Homo sapiens: one gene and its partners. The protein of the gene in region 3 interacts with the protein of the main gene of each other region in a biochemical or structural test. Each region holds a gene or a part of one and is shown on either strand. Other genes may lie near its edges.

Region 1 (7,031 bases), on a different chromosome or scaffold from region 3:
AATTTTTAAAAATCTAATCATTCTGGGGTAAGCTTAAATACTCAGAACAAGTGCATTTCAAATGAAACTTCCTCCAGTTTCAGAAAACTTAGTTACTATCTCCTACAATTTGTAAAAATCCGTTTGTCTGAACATAAAAATTAAAAACACTGAGATCTAGCCTGAGTAATACTGCGAGACTCCATCTCTACAAAAAAATTAAAAATTAGCCAGGGGTGGGTGGCATGTGCCTATAGTCCTAGCTACTCAGGAGGTCAAGGCAGGAGATCACTTGAGCCCAGAAGTTGAAGGCGCAGTAAGCTATGATCACGCCCATTGCACTCTAGCCTGGGCAACAGAGCAAGACCCCGTTTCAATCTAAAAAAAAAAAAAACAGCAACAAAACAAACAGATCTCAGAATCTCAGATGAAAGATTTTAGAAACGTTTGGTGTTTGGTGTATTTATTCAATGCCAACTGACAAAACGCATTCTGGAGGATGTTTTCAACTGTCAATGAATTGAAAAATGAAAAGTTCCTTCACAAACATAGTAGAAATAAATGAGTAAAAAAGGAATGACATATTCAAGAGGATGCAGTGTGTTCAATTCAAATAACCTGACTCTACCCATCAAAAGCTCATGTTCTAATCCCATCTCTTAATACCAGGTAACCAATATAGCTATCTAATTTCAAATAACACACAAGCATGAAAAGGGAAAATTTTTCAAAGGAGATTTTTTTAAAGGATATTCTAAAATAAAACCAAAGAGAAAAATAAAAGAGTACAACAGATTTTTAAAAAATAATCTGAGGTCCACAAAGAAATCCGTTACTATCAACTGCTGTCTTCCTCTCAGATAGCAGACGCATTTCCTAACAAGTAATCCTCTGTATGCTCACTTCCAGCATATATAAGACAGTCAAGTAATTTAAGATGCACATACAGTAGCTATGTTATGTGCTTTCTAACAGAAACATTTTTCACCTACATACACAAATGTAACTATAATAAAATAAAAAAGTCTTTTTACGTTAGATTTTGGAGTTACCTGCTGGCAATGTAAATGTTACAAGGTCAGTCAGAAAATAGCAAGCAAAATCCCCCTTTCTCTGATGAAGAGAGGCAGCTATCTCTCTCCGGATTTGTTCTGTCAGTTCAGGACACACCATTGCTGGAATACACTTTGCTGCTTGTTGAGACACCTTAAATACAAAAGAAACCTTCCTCTCATCTCATGTATCATAAGTGGAAGCAGAAAACAACAGTATTTAAAAGAAATCAGCAAAATTTCCCAATAACTCAAGGTTTTCTTTAATCTTAAAATACACTGGTATTATTTCCTTACCAATGAAAGTATATACCAGAATAAGTTTTCAGTAACAGTCACAAAAATGTTTTATCCTCTGATTCAGTAATTCTCTTTAAGAATTTATCACAAGGAAATACTCAAAGATGCACATAAAAATGTATGGAAAAGGGTGTTGTTCATAGACACATCACAGGAAGAGGAGAGAGGACAGAAAACCTCAGTAGACTAACCATCGTGCACACAATAAAAACATTCTTTAGAAGCAGAGAATCACAGCTGATAAAGGGAAACTGCAAATACTCTTCTCCCACACCACAAGTTTCAAGTACCCTAACTTGGACTTAAAAAAAGCACGGTATTTAAAGGGTTAGTTCCCACTGACCTCAAGCCCTTTCTTCCTCTCCATTTGTTACCACTCTTGAGTTTTTAAAAAAGCATTTGGCATCTGCAAGTTTAAACACAGACTGCCAACCTCTGAAGCTCAGCCTGACAGGAGTGAGATGGGAGCACTACTGCACAGGCCTCTAAGCAAGAAAACAACAAACCAAAGAAGGCTAGAACTTTCTTTTGTTATTTTTTTATTCTTTTTAAAATGCTAAATAGCAACAAATGTTGCAAAGATTTAATTTAACCTCACATTTCAGTCATATCTAGTTTGTGGAGCTAAATAAAAATACATACACAGAATTCTAAAATCACAGTTGAGCATCTGCGAGTAACAAACAGAATTCAAGGCCAGGCACAATGGCTCACGCCTGTGATCCCACCAACTCTGGGAGGCCGAGGCGGGTGGATTGCTTCGGCTCAGCAGTTTGAGACCAGCCTGGCCAACATGATGAAACCCTGTCTCTACTAAAAATACTACTACAAAAATTAGCTGTAGTCTCAGCTATTTGGAAGGCTGAGGCATGAGAATCACTTGAACCCGGGAGGAGGAAGTTGAAATGAGCTGAGAACGCGCCACTGCACTCCAGCCAGGGTGACAGAGAGAGACTCTGCCAAAAAAAAAAAAAAAAAAAAAAAACCCCAAAGAGAATACCGTGGGAACCCACAGTGAGCCTGTTCCCTGATGTCACCAACCTGGACGATTATCCCAAAGGTAGCCTTCCAGCCACAGTGGGGTGTGAAGCAACAGGTCTTCCAGCCCCTTCTTCTTCTTCTCAAAGAGTAAGGTTTAATGATAATGTTATCTACATCATATATGCAGACAACTAACTGCTATTGCTATTAAAGAAATAATATTTCAAAAACCCTGCATACCCAGCACAGTTACCTGACTCCCTATTCTGAAACTGCAGCTTGGTGCAGTGGCTCACACCTGTAATCCCAGCACTGTGTGAGGCCAAGGCAGGAGGATCATTTGAGCTCAGGAATTCAAGACCAGCCTGGGCAACATAATGAAACTCTGCCTCTACAAAAAACCCCAAAATATTAGCTAGGCATTAGTGGCATGCACCAGTAGTCCCAGCTACTGGGGAGGCTGAAAGGTGAGAGGATCACTTGAGCCAGGGAGGTCAAGGCTGCAGTGAGCCATGATCACTCCCCTGGGCAACAGAGAGAAAGTCTGTCTCAAAAGAAAAGAAAAAAATAAAAAATTTAAAAACTCCTACGTGGAAATTCAGTTCAACTAGACTTTATTGGCCAAGATTACCATTAACCATGAAAATTCTCACTATATCTTAACTCCATGAGCCCAACCATTAGTCAACACTCAAACATGGAAAACCAAATATTAAATATTTTCAGAATATAATTGACTATTTCTCAAGTAACATAGTTAAAATGGCTCCCCCAAAGTAAATTCAAAAATAGCTTATTCCCATCAGCTAGCTCTCAGGCCCTTTCCAAAAACCTGGAAAGACCTTTCCAAAAACCACCTGGACTGGACCCTGACTACCACAAACATTCTAAAAGAAACTTAGCCCCCAAACAACCCCTTCCACCACCATCCTTAAGCAGGATGTGCCCCTGAAGCCTGCCACTCACCTTCTCACCTCCTTCAACCTTATGGTTCTCAACCATCTCCGTAGGCTGGGAGTTCTTAACTTAGGGTCCATGATCTTGGGAATGGTCCATGTACTTTAATGGGAATTTGGTTTTAATTCAAGTTAAATCAATTATCCCCAACTTTTTACCTATATTAAAATGTATTTTCTTATATATCACAAATTTAGTTTAGTATTTTGGTAGCTATTACTTCAATACAACTGATTTCCTTTGTAATCTCATTTACTTCTTATTTTTTGTATTTAAAAACAGTATTCTGGGAAGGAGTCCATAAGTTTCATGAAACTACCAACATGGTCCATGACACAGAAACCGATGAAAATTCCTGCCCCACATACATATCCCCAACTCTAATGTTCTCCTGTTCTCATTCCAAAAGAACTTGGCTGAGCATTCTCTGCAACACACCCCCTTAGTCTAGACTTAGTCCAGACTCCCCCACTTCCAGTCTCCCTACTGGCCCCTTTAATTCTGTCCTTTGGAGTATTTACTCCATGGAGACTGAATCCATGACCAATTTTGCTCTTTGCCTGGAACAAATCCCCTCCACCTCTCCCACGCTGTTCCAGGGTTGTTCTACACGTCCCACGGAATACAGCAAAAGTAATGGTATGTTGCTTCCTAAATCAATTTATAAAAGACACTGCAGGTTTCAAAGACACTGGATCACTCTCTTGTACTCTGTGCCTCTCTTGGATCACTTGTTGGGGGTAAAACCAGCTGCTGTATCATGAGCATCCCTGTAGACAGGCCTGCATGGCACAGTATTGAAGCCTCCTGCCAAAAGCCACCTGAGTGGGCTTAGGAACAGATACTCTAGCCCCAGTTGAGTCTTTTGACAACTACAGCCCTGGACCACTTGACTGCAACCTCATGACATCATGAGCCAAAACTATTCAGCTAAGCAGCTCCTGGATTCTAACCCTCACAAACTCTGTGAGATAACATACATTTGTTGTCTTAGCTGCTAAGTTTCCAGACAATCTGTGATACTGCAATAAATATACTGATGTTCGATCATCATCCCACTGTTACTCCTCAGACTGTCTCAGGAGCTCAATGACTCACAATGGCCCCTCTAAAACCTTGTAATAATCTTCTACCTACCTTTAGGGGAGCCCCTTAAGACTTTCACCCTAGTTCACAACCACCTTCTTTATCCTGGCTCCTGTCACCACCAGCAACTACAACTCCACATTGACAGCCCTTCCAATATACAATAGACAACACAACTAGGCACCACAACACAAATGCAGCCAGGCCTTCGACACTAGAAAAACTCCAATTCTTCTATCTCATGTTCCAAAACCTGGATCCCTCTATCTGAAAAGTTCCCTTCTCCCTTATACTCAATAAGCCTGCCCTTTTGTTTTCATCATGGCCTTCAGTCTCTCAAGCCCCCCACCCCGGCTTCACTGGAATCTTACCAAACTGGACACAGGGGTTAGCTACTACAATCATGTTTCCATCTAACCTTCAAATTTTTTAATCCCCATACAGTGCCCTGCAGTGGTTCCCAAATATTGGCAAATTTGAATAAACAAATATGCAAAAGTATATATGAAAGATGTATACTGACAAAATTTGAATCCACAATTAATATGACTCTCTGCACTTTTACTCTATTTCTCTTACCATTAAAAAATGTTACCTTGGCCAGACACGGTGGCTCATGCCTATAATCCCAGCACTTTGGGGGGCCGAGGCGGGCAGATCACTTGAGGTCAGGAGTTCAAGACCAGCCTAGCCAACATGGTGAAACCCCACCTTTCTAAAAATACAAAATTAGCCAGGCATGGTGGCATGTGCCTACAATCCCAGTTACTTAGGAGGCTGACAAAGGAGACTCGCTTGAACCCAGGAGGCAGAGGCTGCAGTAAGCCAAGATCGTGCCACTATACTACAGCCTGGGCAACAGAGTGAGACTCCAGCTTAAAAAAAAAAAGAAAGAAAAAAAAAACCTGGATAATGTAGTCACATTCTGAATAATTCATACACAATCTCTATCATTGGTAGCATGTACCTAGTTATGTAAGCCAGAAACTGAAGAATCAACTTACATCCACACTGTATCTTCCCATATCCAATCAGTCTACTTCTTCAGACTGAGGGCCTGTCTCAGTCTCTCCAACCCTCTAACCCTCTTCCCATTTCTAAGGCTACCCTTCTGGGTACCCTTCTATGGCTACCCTTCTGCCCTTCTGGCAGAAGTTCTTGCCAGCACCTCTGCAACTCCCTCCTAACCAGGCTCACCCCTCTCCAGTGTGCAGCAGCCAAAACACAATCTGCTCTGCTCACTCCCCTGCGCCCATACCTAACACCATCCAGTGCCTAGGGATAATCTTCAAATTCCTTGACACAGAAGATCCTTCGTAATCCAGCCTCTGCTTATCTTTCAGACTTCCCTTCTCTCCATTCCCAATCACCATCTCAGCCATGCTTAGTTACCTGCAAGTCCCTAGATTCACCACAAATTCCACCATCTCTGCCCCCTGTAAAAATGCTTTCCTCAACTTCCCTTCTCTCCCTTATCCACTTCATGTGGCTAACTCCTAACTCTTTCTCTTCAAATTGCAGCAAAAACATTACCTGCTATAAGAAAGACGACAAGACACCTCAAAACTCTTCAAGTACTGGCATAACACTTGGCATTTACATCTACCAGGGCACAGGCTGCACAGAATTACCTGTTCATTTCTCTACTTTGCTGGAGATTTAATGAAGAAAGAGCCAGTATCTTTACAATTGTATCCCTTCTCAGCCTAGTGCATGGCACACAGTAAATGCACAATAAATATCTGTTAATTGAATGACTAAAGAATGACAGATACATCCCAGGTTTGTATGAACCAAACATGATGAGTCAAACATTGTTGTGACTATTCAAATATTTGAAAGCATATACCCTTAAAAATTAAGTCTCTTAAGTTTAATGTTATTTTTAAAAGGGGGTAAAAGAATTCAAAACATTTTAAAGCTGCTTAGAGAAACATTATAAAATCAAAAATGAAAACTAAAGAACAGGTTTCTTTAATATAAAAGAACATTTAACCAAAACGCCAAACTTACCTCTGTAAGCAATATTGCTAGCATATCCTGCCTCTGAAAACGTATAGCCAAGTGTACAAGAGTATAGCCAACATCAAAGGCAGAAGGACGATTCAGCAAGCGTACTTCATCTGCGGTGAGCTGACGTGCAATGTCTCCTCCTGATGACTTGTATGCTTCTATGGCAGCTAAATCACCTTCTACAACCCCTAAAACAAGCATCAAGATAGAAAAGCATTTAATTCTCATTTTCTTCAAAAAACACAAACCGTAGCAATCACTCCAAAATCTTTTAAGTGTTTCTCTGTGCTTCCTGGATCCTGATGCATCATTTAAATGTCCTATAAGAGTAAGGAAAATAAGTTTTTTCCTTTCCCTTTAAAAATTTTCCTTCCAGAACTAGAACTGCCTAGACATTTACCTTACCATCAGTGCAGGCTCCAGGCTCTGGTGAGATTTAGAGGAACTATTAGGCTGCATGAATTGGATCGAAGATCAATAATCTAGTATGAGAAACCAGACGTAACAAGAGACACTGAGCCCCTGGTTCCGGTCCTGCGTTCATCCTGACTCTGCAGAAACCAAGGAGACAGGGATGTGCTTCCAGCTGGTGTTGAGCTCCTCCTGCCCTTTACACTGCATTCTTAAAGCAGAATCAAAACAAATGCTGAGCTTTCCATACTG
Region 2 (7,031 bases), on a different chromosome or scaffold from region 3:
TGCAAATTCTTCACCTCCTTCCGCTCCACCATGGAGCAGGCCTCAGCCCGACACACACACCCCGGGAGGAACATGGTGCGGGCAGGCGGCACCACCATGACCCCGTCCACCTCGCTGAGGCACAGCCGGAGGCGCTGGGGCCTCTCTTCCTGCCACTCCAGGGAAGCACCTGGGTCTCAGCTTTCCATTCTCCTGGGGCTCTACTGGGTGGGGTACTGGGCCTCCCTGGTGCTGCCCCTGACAGACCACCTGGGCCTGGATGTCCTCCCCCACAGGCACTGCCCGTCACCCACCCCTCGGGCCGGCAAAGGCACCCCACCTGCCACACACCCATCCATCGCAGAGCCCAGCACATCCCAAGACCCTGTCCCTGTCCCTGTCCCCCACCTCATTTTTGGTCTGCCCCAAACAAGCCCCACCCATGTCATGGCCCACCCTGCCTACTCAGGACCCCTGCAGATGAGGCTGCAGCCCCTCCCTGGCGCCTCCTACTCTGCCCCCGCCCACTCTCCCCATAACTTGCAGCAGGCTTTGCCAAGTGCCCTCCACCCAGTGGGTTCCCAGGGCCCTCACCCTCGCTCCCTGCGTGGGAGGAAGCTGGGCATGGGGACAGCACACAGTGCCTGCTGCGAGGGAGGGCTGGCCACAGTGTCCCACGTGTAGACACTGCCCTCGGGAAAGGAAGTGGGCACGGGCACAGGCTCCTTCCGGGGCTCGGCCGGGGGCACGCAGCCATGCCCACAGCCCCTCCCTCCTCCCGTCTCTCTTGGGCAGGGCCCCTGGCGGTTGAAGGGCTCCAGTGCTGGCCTCTCAATCCCTGACACCCCAGGAAAAGTGCCCTGCATTGCTGGGGGAACTGGAACCAGGCAGTAGGGACCTCGTCCTCCACACCGACCATGGGAAGCACCCGCCACAGAGGGGCCTTCCATCTCCCCACCATCTTGTTTCTGCCCCAACTTGGAGCCACGCCTGGGGCAGGAGGGCCCCCAGAGCACGGCCAGCTGTGGAGGGTGCTCCTTCTGATCCCCCGGCCTGCTGGGACATTGTGGCCCTGACCCCCGTGGCCTCACCCCACACCTCACCAAGCTTGTGCAGCTCAGCGTCTCCGCGCCCTACACCTGGCTGCTGTGCCCCTGGCCCCAGTCTGTGGGGAGGCCAGCCAGACCCTGGCCAGCCGAAGGGCCTCTCTGCATTCTCCAGGCCCAGGGAGCAGCCACCTCCCCGCCAGGCCTGCCCAGGGGGTGTCTCCACCCCTGAGCTGGACAACCAGCTGAGGGCCTGGGCAGGTGGGCCCGCCAGGTTACAGGGTATGGGTGGGGTCTGCAGTCACCGGGCCCGCCTGGGGGGTGTGTGAGCCCAAACACAGCGCCCCAAGGATCCCACCCCAAAGCCCGCAACATTGGCAGCAGAGTCACCCATGAACTCCCAACCCCCTCAATTCCAACGTTTCTGAAATCCAAACCTATCATTCCTTAAGGTTCAAGGAAAACACACCTAAAGGCGGCATGGCAGGGAAGGGAACTCCCGTTGGAGATGAGGAAGTAAGGGGCCTAGGGTTCGCCTAACAGCCCCATCCTGGCCTGGAGCCCCAGGGCCCTCTGCCAACCTGCCCGGGGCCCCAGCGCTGGGCTGGGGGAACCTTCTCCTGAGGCCATGGGACTAGGCACAATGGTCCAAGCAGACAGAAGCAGCAGGCAGCTGCCCACCCAGGGTGGCCTGGGGAGCAGGCCCAGAGCCACAGCCACAGCCACCAGTCTCAGCTATGGGAGGGCCCGAGGGCAGGGTGCTGGCCCCAAGCCGGGCCGGGTGTGCCCAGGCAGAGGGGACGCCAGCGGGGGCCGCGCCAGTTCCCTCCGCTCAGCCTCGTGCAGGACTTCTAGGAACCCGGCCTGATGCAACCCGGCCAGGCTTCTCCTGAGAGTGGAAGGTGTACGGGGGTCTAGGCCCCAGCACAGGAATCATTCCACCCACATTCTGTCCACTCTCCTGGGCCTCAGTTTCCCTTCCCGGAGTCCAGCCCCCCACAGGGCATCCCTGCCCAGAGAGGGCCAGTGACCAAGAAACACACAGGAAGAAGAGCTGTCCACTCAGGAGCCACCAGGCGTGGGGGCTAAGGTCCAGGGCTGGGGCCAGCAGTGACCCCTCACCCCCACTCAAGGCCACCTCGGCTTCCTCTTTTGTTGTTTTTGAAGTGAGAACTCAACAAGCTCCCAAAACAGGAACCTCCCTGATGCTGGCGGCCTCCACCACAGCCATGCCATGACCTCCACCAGCCTGTGCCTCCTGCCCCTCTCCCGGGTAGGCCCAGGGCTGTTGGGACCCCCACTCTCTGCCCAGCCCTCCCACCAGGAGCCAGCACACTTGCCTCCCCATCTCTGTCCCTGGCCTGCCCACGGGGGCCGTTCCAGACCCTCAACGCTCCCCCAGGGGAGGCAGAGCTTGGCACTAACCAGCCCAGGGCCCGCGGGTCTCACACTGAAGCCACCTAGACGCAGCCTGGGGTTGACCCTCACCTGACAGCCTGGGAAAAACTGAGGCCCAGGAGGCACAGGCAGCCCTGGCCTGGAGCCCAAAGGTTCCCACAGGCTGAGGGGAGAGTCTGCGGGCTCCCTCCCTCAGGGTCCTGCTGGGCCCCTCATCCTGGCGGGGTAATGAGCAGCCTCCATCTGCACACAAACAATTAGCCCTGCGGGGCCCTCCGCAGCAGCTGCTCTCTGGAGTGGGCTCAGAGTCCCCCACAGACCTCTTCTCAAGGGTGTTTACTCAGCAAAGCCAAGGCCTCCTCCAGGATGAAGGGGAGTGGCCTGTACCCTCTGAGGTCCCCCACCTCACGCAGGGACCCCAGGACCAGCTGGATGGCTGAGCAGCAGCTGGGGATGCAGTGAGGTTCTATGTCGCTCACCAAAGCGAAGTAACACACTGGGGTAGGAACCACTCTCTCCCTGCCTCAGTGCCCCCCCGCAGGGACAGCCAGTGCCAGGACTTCAAGGCGGGGAGAGGGGGTGGGAAGGAGGCCCAGCCTAGGCACCTGCTTGGGGTCAGAGACCAGCCTCCATACTCCCCACCGGGACGCCTGGGGCTAACTCAGCAGGAGTGGTGAGGGGGCTGCCCTGAGGCCTGGACTGGGGGGTCTATGCCAGGCATGGGCCCGGGGTAGGGCATGGCAAGGACTCAGATGTCCGGAGACTGGACCCTCCGTGAGCCGCATGGACACACGGTCCCGTGTCACCCGGGCCCGGCCAGGCACCCAGATCCGTGGCTTGGACACGCTGCCCACACACTCAGGAGCGTCTGCCGCGTAACCCACGCGCCCCAGGCAGCTTCCCTCGACCCCCGCCCACTCGGCCTTGGCCTGCTGGGTCACAGCCTGCCGAAGGCAGCCAGGCCTGCAGCTCTTCCCCGGCCCCTCTCGGACAGCGACCAGCCTGAGGGAGTCCAGGTGGTGCCCCTGCGGCCGGCACCCACTCCTGGCCTAGGCCCAGCCCTTTCTCGAGAGCCCAGAGCACCTCATCCTGGGTCCCAGCATCCCGGCCACCCGCCTCGGCCCTCTCCTGACCCACTTGGTCCAGCCATGTGGACGGGGGGACGCTCAGGAAGACAGCCGCGAGTGGACAAAAACAGGCTCCAGGCCGGGGCTGCACCAGGGCAGCTCTCCACGGGGCTAGGCTGCAGCCAGGCTGGTGCACGGCCCCAGGAGTACTGGGGCAAGCGGGCAAGGTGAGCAAGCTGTTTGGGGAAAGTACCTCAAAAGAGCCACACAGCCTCTGGCCAAAGCCTGGCACGGAGCTATCAAAGGAAGGAAAACTGCAGGCTGGAGGCCGAGTTCAGCCAGACCTGCGCCCTGGCCCAGGATTGATTTTTTAAAATTGTCAGCCTTCAAAAATCAGGAGACTTCACACAACAGAACAAATCTTTGAAAATGCAAACGTCTGAGCAACACTGAGCCCACCAGACCACCAATGGCCAGAGCTGAGCTGGGCTGCTTATCCAGTGAGACAGCCGAAACAGGAGGGGACATCTGGCCCCCTGTCCCTATAGGCCCCACCAGCCTCCTCACTAGCTCCTGCCCTTAACAGCCTAAGCTCACCCTCCAGGAACCATCTCCCTGTTAGATGTGCAGACCCAGAGGCCTCGCCTGGGTCCAGCCACAGGTCCACACAGGCCTGCAGCCGGAACTCCTGTGTCCCCATGCCCGGTCCCTTCTGTCCCTGAAGCTCCTCTGACTCAGAGCACACACATCAGAACAACAGAAAGCAGCCTGGGCCACTTCCCAGAGATGACGCTCACCTCCCAAGGAGCAGGAGAAGGAGCCTGCAGACACTGCCACCCCACCCCTCACACACAGGGCATACCCGTCCCCTCTCATCTCAATGACCACATCACCCCTGAAGGCACCATCACGCCACGTGTGGCCAGCCCAAGTAGCCGTGGTGGGACTGTCACCTGGGGATTCAGCTGAGAACCAAAGTGCCCCAGGCCACGGTCGTGGGGAGTCCCGGCAAAGGGGACAGGTGCGGGCCAGCCTCTGAGACAAGCACCCTGACCTGCAGGAGCAAGGCTGGGGGGGAGTGGAACAGGGCGTCTGCAAGGGGCTGCGGCCGGGCCTGGAGGACAGTCACTGCGTCCCTCCCTCCCTCCCCACCCCCAGCCAGGCCTGAGCACTGTGAAGCACGGGTGGGGTCAGCCCAGCACAGCCCTGCTAGGGACAGGAAGGCAGCTAGTACCTCTAACCAGTGTTGCGGGTGGGGCTGGCCCTGCCAGGAGGGTGGCACAGCACATCTGCAAGACACACAGGGGACCCCAGGGACGGGAGTGGCGAAATGCGGCAGGCCCCGGAGGACAGGCTTTCCTCCGCAAGGAGCGGCCGGCCATGCGGGTGGACGCCACCTGCTCTCGGCAACAAGAGGGGCTATGCCTGCCAAGGGCATATGTCATATCCACGCCACCTCCCATCCTCAGCGCCCACTACACTGGGGATGGAGGAGGAAGAGCCGGGGGTAGAGGTACAGGACCCTCTCTCCTGGCCTGAGGCTAGGGGCCAGATGACAGAGCCCAGAGGCTGCTGAGGCTGGCCGGACCCCAACTCAGGGCCGCCCACAAGCCATTCTCCACTCCACCAGGTCTCTCTCCCACCACCGCTCCCTGGTGTAGATGGGGAAACTGAGGCCCAAGGAGCTCAATGACCTTGCTCTTGGAAAGGGTCATGGCGATAGAGTGGCTAACCAGGGTTCAAACTCAGCTCTCTGGACGCCCCACTGGGCCTGATGTCCTGTCCCTGCCAGGCCCCTCCTGAAGGCACGACATCAGCAGCAGCCTGAAAATCACCTGGCCTCGGGGGAGCACTCCTGCCTAGGCCCAGCTGGCTGATGGGTGCCCCAGTAACTGGGGCCTGGGCCCCTGGGCAGTCAAGGCCCTGGCATCTCCTGGGTCAGCCCGAGATCCAACAGTCTATCAACAAACACACATTTGCCAAGGATAAAGAAGCAGCGGCCCCAGGCAGCAGACTATGTGACACAGAGAGGAACAGGGCCAGGGTCGGGGCAGGGGGTCCCTGACACCAAAGAGGGCTGTGAGGTGAGGAGAGGACCTCCAGGCACAGGTGGCAGGACTCCTGGGGAACAAGCAGGGGACAGCACACGGGGAGGGGATGGAGAAGGCAGGATGCGGCAGGAGGCCTTGGGGGGAAGCAGAGCCAGAAGCTCCCCAAGGACCACAGGCGTCTGCAGCCTCCTTGTCTTCATCTCGAGGCCCCGCGTGCCATCACTGGTAGCTGCCCACTCAAACACTCCAAACACACAGCCAGCCACACCCCTGATTCCCCCAGCATCTCATCTCGGTCACTCCTTCACCCCACCCCCAGGCTCCTGTGGCTCCTTAGGCCTGCTCTTCTGTGAGCTCCTATACATCCCACAATGCCCCATCTTGTGACACCTACTTTTGCCACACCTCCCTGTCTGCTCCAGCTGTGTTTGGGGTCTCCCCACTACCAGATGTGAAACCCATCTGCTAGAGGGTGTACGTAAAGCCGGGGGGCTGCTGGCATGAGATCACTAGAACTTAGGAGGGAACAAGTCTGGAAAAAGAAGTCAGGAGAGGGCGGACCGATTCCGCCTGGGGCAGAAGAGAGTGACTTGGCCAGAGGACCTGGACCTGAACAGGAAGCCCACCCTAGCAGGACAGAGGAGCAAAACAGCCACCCAGACTCCACCGCACCCCGCTGAGCAACGGAGGGTGGGTGAGGCAGAAGGGCCTGCACAGGGTTGGAAGGGGTGGGGCTATGTCCCCAGCTCCCATCCCACCCAGCTGCTGGCCAGGCCCCTCGGGCAGCACCTCCTCCATAGGCTGCAAGGCCAAATGAGTGAGGAGGGGGACACAGGGGCTGGGGGACTTGGCTCAGCCAGCTCTGCAGCTCCAAGGCAAACATGCCCTGTGCCCAGGCGGTACGGATTCCCCCCACCCCCAAAGCTCAGGCCTGAAGCAGGCACCAGGCCAAGCCAAGCAGCCCTGCCCTGCCCTCAGGAGCCCTTGGGCAGTGCCCTGGGCCGCCAGCGTGCCAGACCCTGGAACAGCCCAGTGTCCTCGCTGCCTTCCAGGAAAGCCAGGAGAGAGGCTGGCAGCAGCTCCCCCGCCTGCCAGGGCCCACACCAGGAAGCCACTCAGATGGCCGGCCCTGCACAGGGCCTCATCCTCCTGGCCTCCCCGAGGCCGTGCCCTCCATGCCATGGGAAGACATGGGGCCCAGGACACTCACCCTAGGCCAGCCCAGGAGCCCCAGGGGAGGCAGCCCCTCCCACCCAGCAGGGCACAGGCACTCACAGACCCTGGGGCTACTACCCCCATCTCTCCCTCCCCAGGCCCAGCCCTGGCAGCGGGTACTAACCTCGTTTGTGCAGCCAACCCTCCTTCACAATAGCCACGTCGCTCATGGTGCCCGAGGCTCCCGCGACGCTCACGCGCTCCTCTCAGGCTGGCGCTCCCCGAGCCCAGCTGGCCTGGCCACAGCCTCTGGGAGAAGCAAAGGAAGCTGAATG
Region 3 (4,440 bases):
CGTTTCCTTGACGCTTTCAGAGTTTGTGATTTTTACCTCTGAGAAGATATAAAACTACAGTTTGGTTATACCTATCAATCACCTTTTGTGATAAGGTAGGTAAGGAATCCCAACTTATATTGTGTTTGTTTCTAAAGAACTCTATCTAGACTAATGGAGTTTAGAACTAGGTACGTTCTTAAAAATAACCTAAAAGTCTACTCTGTCAGTTTATATATGGGGAACAGACTTGGAGGTTAAATCTCTTTCTCCAGGTTGCACAGCTGACTGGAACGTACCCACCCTGGTCTTGTCTATAAGATCAAGCCCTTTACTGGGTAAGCCCTCAGGATGCACAGCAGTGTTCTTCATATATGTCTTCCACATATTCACAGGCAGTATTAGTTAAATCAAGATTCATACAAAGACAACTAAAAAACCCAAGGAGTTAAATTTAAAAGTTTTTTGTTGAGCAGTCCTGAAAGCAGTTATTGACACGTTATGAGAGATGATTCAACAAGGACAAGTTCAAGTATTCTTTATTCAAAGTTGAAAAATGTACCATACTGCATTATTGCAAAAATTCACTGGTACAAAACACTTTGCAGCTGGTGAGAAGGCAATAAAAAGTTGATTTTTAAACTCATTACTATAAATTATTCTTACAGTACTTTGCAAATTCAGAATTTCAAACTGCATGTTCTTTTTCTAAATTGCCCACAGTACTCGAGGTTCCTGAAGCTAAGGCAGCTGTTTCAGAGGAGGGGGGAGGAGGTAGCAGATGTCAAGGGATTTCCATTTCTCTTTCGATGCCGACATACTTCAGGGCATCAGCCTGGCTGTATCTGAAACAACAGGAAGGAGATGTCCGCTGGATGGCCACCCATCCAACATGTGCTGAGACTTAACACAACAAAGCCTGCTGAAGATAGTGGGTGCATTAAAATGTCTTTAAAAAAAAAAAAAAAAAAAAAACCCATCCAATTACACAGCTGCCTGCATAACGGCACATTCATAGAAGGCAATGCATAGGTCTGTGTTGCTGGCCATCTAATTGAGACGCTGCCAAGTTCTGAAGTGAACAAACCTGTCTACAAGCATTCCCAGAGCCTGACCAGCCTCCCCTATGCCTCTGAAGCAAGTGGTCCCAGGAAGGCTGGTCCACATCAGGATGCTTAGGCCTGACGCTGGGAAGGCAAAATAGAACCATGGTCTGGAAAAAATGATGACCATAGCAAAGAGGGCCAAAGAGCAGCCCGCCAGTTGCTCCCCCAGGTGAAGCAAGAACTGGAGTGCAGCGGACACCCAGAGAGGAGCACAAGAAGCCCACCATGGGGGGTGAGGCCACCGGGTCATCCCAAGGAAGCTCCACCCCACACTCTTCATTCAGAGCCAGCCTGGAGTGAAGGCAGCGGCCTTTGCTAAAGTGGGCCCTTCACTCAGACCCTGTCTGCCTCACTGAGAGCTCGCTGCTGTGCAACAGCCATTAAAGGCCAGCCTGAATATGCAAGAACACAGTACTCAAAGACAGCTTCTGGATGGGATGTACACGGGGCTACAGGAGTTCATTAACTAGACAGTCATCTGACTGCACTTAAATCTGTATTCAATGGCTGACTTAAATGTATCCCACAGAGCTTGACAGTGTCAACTGGCAGCCTAATGCCTAACCACACAGATACCATTGGTGGCCCACGTGTCCCAGGCATCCCCACAGGGTGATCAGACAGCGATTTGCCAACAGCCCCTTTTAAAATGGTAATGATATGTGTAATAAGTATTATAGCAAACAATAAATTAAGTAGATCTAATCCATAAAGATATGCATAGTATATTGTCAAGTAAAACCATGTTGCAGAAAAATCTATAGGACAGTGTGATCGCACTTATCTGGAAAACGCTCCACGAGTGAGCATGCAGCATGCGGCATGATATGAGAAGGTCTAGGACTCACCCAGCTGTCAACAGCAGGGTGAGAAATGGGGCTTTCTGCATGGATTTTACTCTATTTTAAAAATAAGCATGCCTTGTATAATATATAAATGGATAATAAATACATAACAGGAAAGTGTAACCTAATTCCCCACTAATGCTCATGGCAAAGTGACCCATCAAAAGAAGCAAAGAACTAAAAACCCTCCTTTGTCCAGAGTTCACAATCCAGTAGAAAAAGCCCTTAGAGATCATGCTAGAAATGTACTTTACCAACCTGTAATCAAAAAACAGCTCTTCGCCAGTCTGGATGGCTCTCTTGGCAAAAATACCTATCCTGTGATCACCGTTAACCATCATAACTGCAAAGAGACACACTGGTGTCAGTGAGCATGAAGACGGGCCACGGGGGGTTAACTGACTTGTTCACATAACAAACAACTATCCCAGAAGTATTCAAGTCCATCATCACAGGACTGAAAAGGGAGTTCCAATTCTCACGTCAAAGGTACCTACCTTTTGCATAGCAGTTTGGATTTACCGAATGATTTGCAAAACGAATTTTGTTACCCTTGCGGGTTGCATCCACCACAAAATCTAAAAAGAAAAAAGTAAGCACAGCCCAGTGAATAATTTCAGTTATAAGTAAACCAAGTTATTATGATTTTGTAAATGCAACTGGTTACAGTTCTTCAGGGTTTGCCTGCAAAAGCAAATAAATCAAGCAGCTTCATTCAGTAAGAAATGACATTTGGAAGAACACACTATTGTTCCAGGTTAAAATTAATCACCTATAATTCAAGATGGTTATCTGACTCAAAAGCTATTAATTATCAACTATAAACATACATTACTGAGCAAAACATAGCAAAAAAAAAAAAAAATCTGACAAAATTCTTCCAAACATCACGAATAGGCATTTTCACATTTAAAATTAGTTTTTTTCATTATAATGTCTATAAAGCATTCATAGAAAAAAACCTATTCTACTTGTTCCAACTAAGAGTTTCTCTGAATATCTTACATGTTAAGCCTACCTCCATTTTCACATAATCCCACCAGAAACATCCCTACACAGCCTTACATTCTACCCCAGAACATCAGCTATGAAAGCAGCTGCCTTTCCTCTCAGTCCTTTGAGAATATCCAGGGGAGTCTGGAAGATGGTTGCAAATGCAGTGCTCCTCCCCTCCTTCCCCGCTCAGAGGCACTGACTGGAGGAGGTGTGCTGAGCTGCCTGAACACAAGAGGTGAGGTGAGCAGCAAGAGCACAACGTCCCCTTCACAGCCAGATGCTGGGATAGTGCCACCCACAGACAGCCGGGACTCCAGAGAGGCGGTTTCCTGCACATCTAGTCTATCTGCTCCCTGAGGAATTCCTTGCTCCAGTTCCTTTCAAGCAAGCAGCCCCCCATGCCTCTAAGGAGATCCTCCTTCTGGTCACCTCACTGACCTCTACCCTCGTTTCTGAACACTCGGCCGGCAGAAGGCTGCCACATGCAACTCAGGAACTCACTGCCTCCCAGCTCTGAAACATACCATTGTTCAAGTTGAACAGAAAGCTGCACATGTATTTATCATACACTTTCCCTCTTCTGTCAGCTTCATCTTGAGAAATAATCTAAAAAGAAAGACACAGGAGAAAATTCTTTTGGATAAAGGTGATCAAGCCTGACAGAACACACAAAAGCGCACAGAGTGAATACTGGACCTTCTGGAGAAAACGCAACAAAAAGGGTCACTACAGCCAAGTTCTCTTTCCCATTCGGTCTGCGCAGTAATAAAGAATAACTGTATACTAAGGACCCCAACTCAGAAATATTTCCACATCCTGAAGTAATTATCCTTGGAGAAAGTGAGGAACCAAAGTCTTTTTGCTGAGTTTTTTAAAAAAGCCGGCTGCAGTGGCTCACGCCTGTAATCCCAGCACTTTGGGAGGCCGAGGCGGGCAGATCACCTGGGCGCGGTGGCGCATGCCTGTAATCCCAGCTACTCGGGACACTGAGGCAGGAGAATCGCTTGAACCCGGGAGGCTGAGGTTGCGGTGAGCCAAAATCACGCCATTGCACTCCGGCCTGGGCAACAAGAGCGAAACTCTGTCTCAAAAAAAAAAAAAAAAAAAAAAAAAATTTGGGTGAGCTGGTTCCAAACTGAAGCTAGGCCTATGATTTTTCGGTAACACTGTCGACAATTTAAAAGGTGAATAACTAATGACGTTGTTGTTTCTAGGTCCTTATCAACTAGGTTGTGGATTAAGCAGGCCACTCTATGGTAAAGCTCTTGTTCTCCCTGTTGTCCCTAGACGAGAAAAACTAAATGTGGCTAGAACCAAGCAATCCTGTTTTGTTTTGCTTTTTTTCCCCTCTGAGACAGGGTCTCACTTTGTCGCCCAGGCCGGAGTGCAGTGGCACAAACATGGCTCACTGCAGCCTCAACCTCCCAGGCTCTTCCAGGCTCAAGCGATCTTCCTGCCTCAGCTCCCAAGTAGCTGGGACTACAAGTATGCACCACCACGCCCGGCTAATTTTT
Region 4 (7,031 bases), on a different chromosome or scaffold from region 3:
TGTGGCTGGAACTCAGTGAGAAAGGGGAGAGAGTGGGAGGTGAGGGCAGAGAAGGAGCAAAGGGGTTCAGCATGGTGGTTCATGTGTGTGATCCCAGCACTTTGGGAGGCCAAGGCTGGGGGATCACTTGAGCCCAGGAGTTCAAGACCAGCCTGGGCAACATAGTGATACCCCGCCTCTACAAAACAAATACAAAAATTAGCCCAGCATGGTGGCGTGCTCCTGTAGTCCCAGATACTAGGGAGGCTGAGGAGGGAGGATCACTTGGGCCTGGGAGGTCAAGGCTGCAGTGAGCCAAAATCATGCCGCTGCACTCCAGCCTAAGCAACAGAGCAAGACTTTGTCTCAAAAAGAGAGAGGGCCAGGTGCAGTGGCTCACGCCTGCAATCCCAGCACTTTGGGAGTCCAAAGCGGGCGGATTGCCTGAGACCATGCAAAGGGGGTCAGATCATGCAATGCAAAGCCTTTTAGGCCACGATGAAGATTTAGGCTTTTCTCCAATTGAGAGTAGAACTGAGGGAGGGCATGAGCTGACTTAGGTTTTGAGAGAATCCTGCTGGCTGCGAGGTGGGGAACAGACTGTAGGGAGCAAGAAGCAGGGAGCCCAGTGAGGAAGCGACTGCGATAGTCCAGGTGGAAGACAAGACAAGATGGTGGTCAGATCAGGGTGGAGACAGTGGCAGTGGTCCCCAGGACTGCTGGCTGGGAGATTGTGCTTGGATGGGCATGCATGAAGGAGAAATGGAGGAAGAAGGGCAGTGACAGGTTAGCACATTTAGCTTAGCACTAATGGCAATGCCAGGCATTGTCCTAAGTGCTTTATTATTGTTATTATTATTATTATTTTGAGACGCAGTCTCGCTCTGTCTCCCAGTCTGGAGTGCAGTGGCGTGATCTCGGCTCACTGCAAGCTCCACCTCCCGGGTTCATGCCATTCTCCTGCCTCAGCCTCCCGAGTAGCTGGGACTACAGGCGCCCACCACCACGCCCAGCTAATTTTTTTGTATTTTTAGTAGAGACGGGGTTTCGCCGTGTTAGCCAGGATGGTCTAGATCTGCTGACCTCGTGATCCACCCACCTCGGCCTCCCAAAGCACTGGGATTACAGGCGTGAGCCATGGCGCCTGGCCTTTTTTTTTTTTTTTTTTTTTTTGAGACAGAGTCTCACTCTGTCATCCAGGCTGGAGTGCAACGGCGCGATCTCGGCTCACTGCAAGCTGCGCCTCCCAGGTTCACGCCATTCTCCTGCCTCAGCCTCCCGAGTAGCTGGGACTACAGGCACCTGCCACCACGCCCGGCTAATTTTTTGTATTTTTAGTAGAGACGGGGTTTCACCATGTTAGCCAGGATGGTCTCGATCTCCTGACCTTGTGATCCGCCCTCCTCGGCCTCCAAAGTGTTTTTTGTTTGTTTGTTTGTTTTTGAGACAAGGTCTTACTCTGTTGCCCAGGCTGGAGTGCAGTGGCACGATCTCGGCTCACTGCAACCTACGCCTCCTGGGTTCAAGCAATTCTCCTGCCTCAGCCTCCCGAGTAGTGGATATTACAGGCATCCACCACTGTGCCCGGCTACTTTTTGTATTTTTAGTAGAGACGGTTTCACCATGTTGGCCAGGCTGGTCTGGAACTCCTCACCTCAGGTGATCTGCCCACTTCGGCCTCCCAAAGTGCTGGGATTACAGGCGTGAGCCACCGTGCCCGGCCTATTATTGTTATTATTATTTGAGACGGAGTCTCGCTCTGTTGCCCAGGCTGGAGTGCAGTGGTACTATCTCGGCTCACTGCAACCTCCACCTCCCAGATTCAACCAATTCTCCCGCGTCAGCCTCCAGAGTAGCTGGGATTTCAGGTGCGTGCCACCATGCCCTGCTAATTTTTGTATTTTTAGTAGAGACAAGGTTTCACCATGTGGACCAGGCTGGTCTGGAACGTCTGATCTCAAGTGATTCGCCTGTCTTGGCTTCCCAAAGTGCTGGGATTACAGGCGTGAGCCACCGCGCCTGTCCTGTCCTAAGTGCTTTACATGGCCTAACTCATTTATTCCCCACAACCGCCCTTTTGGGGTAGGTACCGTTTTTTCTTCCTCCGTTTTACAGAGGGGTAACTGAGACACAGAGAGGTTAAGTCACTTGCCCACAGTCACACAGCCAGTAAGAGGAAGTGGCTGGATTTGGACCTAAAATGTCTGGCTGTGGAGCCCAAGCGCTTAACAACACCAGGAACCTCAGAGAAGGGTGTGATTCCGGGGACAGAGTGGGGCCCTAGACAGACTGGAGCAGAGACCGCCTGGTGCGGGAGGTGGGGCGGTGACTCAGGCAGGCCTGGAGAGGGCTCTGCTGTCTCGGATTTTCGACTTTAGGGAGGGGGCCGCGGGGGCCTAGGGACGGTGACAGGGAGGAGGGCTCCAGGTAGTCTCTGTTAATTAGAGATTGGGAGAGGACCGGCCTGGCAAGGCGTCACCAAGGGAGAGGAGAGGGGCCCGAGAGCTGATAGGCGTGGCCCAAGAGAAGGGGAGAGATGGAACCTAAAGTGGCTTGACATGCGACAGGGAGGGGCACAGGAGCCCGGAGGAGCATGGGGAGGGGCAGAGGGAGACTGAGCCCCCGGGGTTGCGGGTGATGGTCCTCAGGCAGTGCCTGATTCAGCCGGGAGCAGGCAGGGGAAAGCCACGGGGCTCAGCACAGGGCAGGGCTGGAGGGAGAGGAGCCTGAAATTGACACGCGCAGCCTGGTAAGGGGGAGGGGCATGGGGCGGGTCGGGGCCTGAGACAGCGGGGGATCGGGGGTGTGGCCGTGGCTGTCTGGGTTCAGAGTCAATCTTGCAACAGGGCCCCCTTGGCAAGGGTCACAGTGCGACGCCGCGCTCCCCTTCACCACCCCAGCTCGGCCCAGCGAGAGGTGCAGCACGTGCAGGCCGAGGGCGGGGCCGGCGCGGAGAGGGTGGCCCTGCATCGTAGTAGGTCCCTCCCCCGCAGTGCTCCCAGCAGGCCCGCTCGTTCTGGAGAAGGGCGTGACTCGACCTGGGGGTGGACCCTAGGCTGAGGGGTAGGGTCCTCCGGTGGGCTTGGTCCCGAAATTGACCCGCGCCCCTCCCCAGTTAGCCCGCGGACCGTGGACTGTATTTTCAGCCCCGGATCCGAAGTGTCCCAGGGGGCGTGGCCCGTGCGAGGGGCGGGGCCTGGGGGCGGGACCAGAGCCTGACGTGTGCCCGCCCCGGCTTCTAGGCGGATCGTGGACCGCATGGACCGCGCGGGGGACGGCGACGGCTGGGTGTCGCTGGCCGAGCTTCGCGCGTGGATCGCGCACACGCAGCAGCGGCACATACGGGACTCGGTGAGCGCGGCCTGGGACACGTACGACACGGACCGCGACGGGCGTGTGGGTTGGGAGGAGCTGCGCAACGCCACCTATGGCCACTACGCGCCCGGTACGCGGCGAGCCCCCGACCCTGCTCCCCATACACCGTGACCCTGACCTTCTGGACCGCCTCATTCTGAGAACCCTGAACCCATTTACCCGGAGTCCCTGGCCCCTAACCAGGCTCTACCCACTTTTAGGAGCCCATAACTGTGAGATCTTCAGTTTCTCACCTCTGGCTTCTCTTTTTTGTTTTTCGTCTGCTTATTTTTCTGGTATTTAGCTGCATGCTAAAAACGATCTTTTTTTCAAACATGAAGTCACAATTAGGTGCTAAAAGCCACTGAACGCACCCAAACAGGGACTTGAAACCTGGGCCCTCAAATTAAAAGTCCAATGCTCTACCAACTAAGCTACCCAGGTTCCCTTCAGGGCTTTCATTCTGGGACTCACCACCTCTGTGACAATATGACTAGGGTACTTGAGATCCCTGGCCAAGGACACCTACTTTCCATGCCTTGTCATCCTGACCCCTAACTTCTGTGACCTCTCATCCTGAGAACCCCAAAGCCAGTTACTCAGCCCCTGACTCTCAGATCCCTCCTTTCTGTCCCAAGTCCCAGCCTCAGTGCCCCACACCCTGCCACACACACAGCCCTCATTCTCTCCCTCCTCTCCTCTCTGTCCCTGGCCCCAGCCTCCCCGTCCAGTCTGTCCTCCACAGGGCTCCGGGGGCGGGGTTCTTCATGCCCAGCACTGACTCTGCCCCTCCCTCCCCCTCCTGGGCCCCCAGGAGACGGTCCCACTCCCCAGCCGGGACGTTTCCTCCTGTGGCTTTGTTTTTCTGCATTTTCTGCACCAAATGGATTTTCTGTGGTTTTCCTGAACTCACCACACTCTTCAAACCTCTACCTTCTGCCCATATTGTTCCCTCCAGTTACAATGCCCGTCCCCTCCTCTCAGTCAAGCCATCTCAGTCCCTGTAAGCTACCCCATCACAGCCTTAGTCTGGGGCCAAAAGGCCCACTGTCAACTCATAGTGGGCCATTCCTGTCTCCACACGCTTGGATCAGTTATTTCTTCTCTCTGAGAATCAATTTTTGCATTCAGAAAGTAGAATACATGGAAAAACCCACTGTATGTGCTTTTTTGTGATGATTAAATGCAATATTGTGCATAAAGAGCTTAGCATATAATCTCTCACAAGTTAGCTAATTTATTGGGTGGATATAATATGTTACATAGCCTGGGTGCCATGGCTCACGCCTGTAATCCCAGCACTTTGGGAGGCCGAGGTGGGTGGATCACGTGAGATCAGAAGTTAGAGACCAGCCTGGCCAATGTGGCAAAACCCCGTCTTACCACAAAAAAATACTTAGCTGGGCGTGATGGTGTGCACCTGTGATCACAGCTACTCTGGAGGGTGAGGCAAGAGAATCACTTGAACCCAGGAGGCAGAAGTTGCAGTGAGCCGAGATCACATCACTGCACTCTGGCCTTGGCGACAGAGTGAGACTCTGTCTCAAAAAAAAAAAAATATATATATATATAGATAGATAGATAGATAGATAGATATAGATATACACACACATACTAATAATATGTTATATAACATATTATATACTTAAATATATATACAAATTATATATAAAGTATCAATATATGCTTTTTTTTTTTTGTGAGGGAGTTTTGCTCTTGTTGCCCAGGCTGGAGTGCAGTGGCGTGGTCTCGGCTCACTGCAACCTCCGCCTCCCGGGTTCAAGCGATTTTCCTGCCTCAGCCTCCCAAGTAGCTGGGATTACAGGCATGCGCCACCACGCCTGGCTAATTTTGTATTTTTAGTAGAGATGGGGTTTCTCCATGTTGGTCAGGCTGGTCTCGAACTCCCAACCTCAGGTGATCTGCCCACCTCGGCCTCCCAAAGTGCTGTGATTACAGGTTTGAGCCACCGCACCCGGCCTACTTTTTTTTTTTTTTTTTTTTTTTTGAGATGGAATGGAGTTTCACTCTTGTTGGCCAGGCTGCAGTGCAATGGCAAGGTCTCGGCTTACTACAACCTCATCCTCCTGGGTTCAAGCAATTCTCCTGCCTCAGCCTCACGAGTAGCTAGGACTACAGGCGCCCACCACCATGCCAGGCAAATTTTTGTATTTTTAGTAGAGAAGGAGTTTCACCATGTTGACCAGGCTGGTCTCGAACTCCTGACCTCAGGCGATCCACCCACCTCGGCCTCCCAAAGTGCTGGGATTACAGGTGTGAGCCACTGTGCCAGGCTTCTAAAATTTTTTTTTTTTTTTTTTTGAGACATAGCCTCCCTCTGTCGCCCAGGCTGGAAAGCAGTGGTGCAGTCTCAGCTCACGGCAACCTCCGCTTCCTGGGTTCAATCGACTCTTGTGCCTCAGACTCCCGAGTAGCTGGGATTACAGGCGTGCCCCACCATGCCCGGCTAAGTATTTTTTTGGTAGAGATGGGGTTTCGCCATGTTGGCCAGGCTGGTCTCAAACTCCTGACCTCAAGTGATCTGCCAGCTTCAGCCTCCCAAAGTGCTGCTATTACAGGCGTGAGCCACTGCATCCAGCCTACTGATATATACTTATTAACTCCACAGAAATCTTTGTACCCCAGTAGGATTTACTTTGTCTTTGTTTTAACCTGCTTGGCGTTTCCTCCATTAAAGCTCATCTCACTGAGACCTGTCCTTCCCCAGGTGAAGAATTTCATGACGTGGAGGATGCAGAGACCTACAAAAAGATGCTGGCTCGGGACGAGCGGCGTTTCCGGGTGGCCGACCAGGATGGGGACTCGATGGCCACTCGAGAGGAGCTGACAGCCTTCCTGCACCCCGAGGAGTTCCCTCACATGCGGGACATCGTGATTGCTGTGAGTGGCGGCTGGGGAACCCTGTCCCCCACACCCTTCCGGGGACCCAGGCTTCCGGTTCAGGTCCTGCTTCCCAGCACCGACCTGGGGGCAGGCAGTCACCTGGTTCTCCAGCATCTTGCCGGGGAAGCCAGGCCGCAAACACAGGTCAGAGGACGGTGACCTTTCCCACCTCCACTCTCAGTCCCCTGGGGTCTGATCTCTCCTCGTCTGGCCTTCCCCTCCCTGTGCTCGCATTTGGGGTCCAGGCCCCCAGCCTTCCCTCAGACAGCCACTGTGCCCCACCTTATACAATTTCTTTTCTTTCTTTTTTTTTTTTGAGACATAGTCTCCCTCGGTTGCCCAGGCTGGAAAGCAGTGGTGCGATCTCAGCTCACTGCAACCTCCGCCTCCCGGGTTCAAGCAATTCTCCTGCCTCAGCGTCCCGAGTAGCTGGGATTACAGGGGCGCACCACCACACCTGGCTAATTTTTAGTAGAGACAGGGTTTCTTCATGTTGGTTAGGCTGGTCTCAAACTTTTGACCTCAGGTGATCCGCCCGCCTCAGCCTCCCAAAGTGCTAGGATTATAGGCATGAGCCACCGTGCCCGGCCAATTTTTAATTTTTTTTTCTAGTAGAGATGGGATTTCACCATGTTGGCCAGGCTGGTCTTGAACTCCGGACCTCAGGTGATCTGCCCACCTTGGCCTCCCAAAGTGCTGGGATTACAGGCATGAGCCACCGTGCCTGGCCCCAAAATGTGCTTTGTTCTATAGAAGAAGGCTTTTTTTTTCTTTCCTTCCTCTTTTTTTTTTTT

Evidence for each region.
Region 1: the proteins of EZH2 (region 3) and ZRANB1 form a complex in vitro, tested with the Homo sapiens proteins (one study listed by BioGRID).
Region 2: of the proteins of EZH2 (region 3) and AKT1, one has a biochemical effect on the other in vitro, tested with the Homo sapiens proteins (2 studies listed by BioGRID).
Region 4: the proteins of EZH2 (region 3) and RCN3 form a complex in vitro, tested with the Homo sapiens proteins (one study listed by BioGRID).

What each region holds. Positions count from the first base shown.
Region 1 is NC_000010.11:124,966,119-124,973,149, reverse strand, and holds part of ZRANB1 (ubiquitin thioesterase ZRANB1), read right to left. Parts: intron 6,557-7,031; coding exon 6,369-6,556; intron 1,186-6,368; coding exon 1,032-1,185; intron 1-1,031. UniProt on the Homo sapiens protein: Ubiquitin thioesterase, which specifically hydrolyzes 'Lys-29'-linked and 'Lys-33'-linked diubiquitin. Also cleaves 'Lys-63'-linked chains, but with 40-fold less efficiency compared to 'Lys-29'-linked ones.
Region 2 is NC_000014.9:104,785,718-104,792,748, forward strand, and holds part of AKT1 (RAC-alpha serine/threonine-protein kinase), read right to left. Parts: intron 7,006-7,031; 5' UTR 6,927-7,005; coding exon 6,881-6,926; intron 1-6,880. UniProt on the Homo sapiens protein: AKT1 is one of 3 closely related serine/threonine-protein kinases (AKT1, AKT2 and AKT3) called the AKT kinase, and which regulate many processes including metabolism, proliferation, cell survival, growth and angiogenesis.
Region 3 is NC_000007.14:148,806,883-148,811,322, forward strand, and holds the end of EZH2 (histone-lysine N-methyltransferase EZH2), read right to left. Parts: intron 3,533-4,440; coding exon 3,451-3,532; intron 2,509-3,450; coding exon 2,428-2,508; intron 2,274-2,427; coding exon 2,189-2,273; intron 825-2,188; coding exon 764-824; 3' UTR 501-763; downstream 1-500. UniProt on the Homo sapiens protein: Polycomb group (PcG) protein. Catalytic subunit of the PRC2/EED-EZH2 complex, which methylates 'Lys-9' (H3K9me) and 'Lys-27' (H3K27me) of histone H3, leading to transcriptional repression of the affected target gene.
Region 4 is NC_000019.10:49,530,972-49,538,002, forward strand, and holds part of RCN3 (reticulocalbin-3 precursor), read left to right. Parts: intron 1-3,221; coding exon 3,222-3,424; intron 3,425-6,061; coding exon 6,062-6,234; intron 6,235-7,031. UniProt on the Homo sapiens protein: Probable molecular chaperone assisting protein biosynthesis and transport in the endoplasmic reticulum.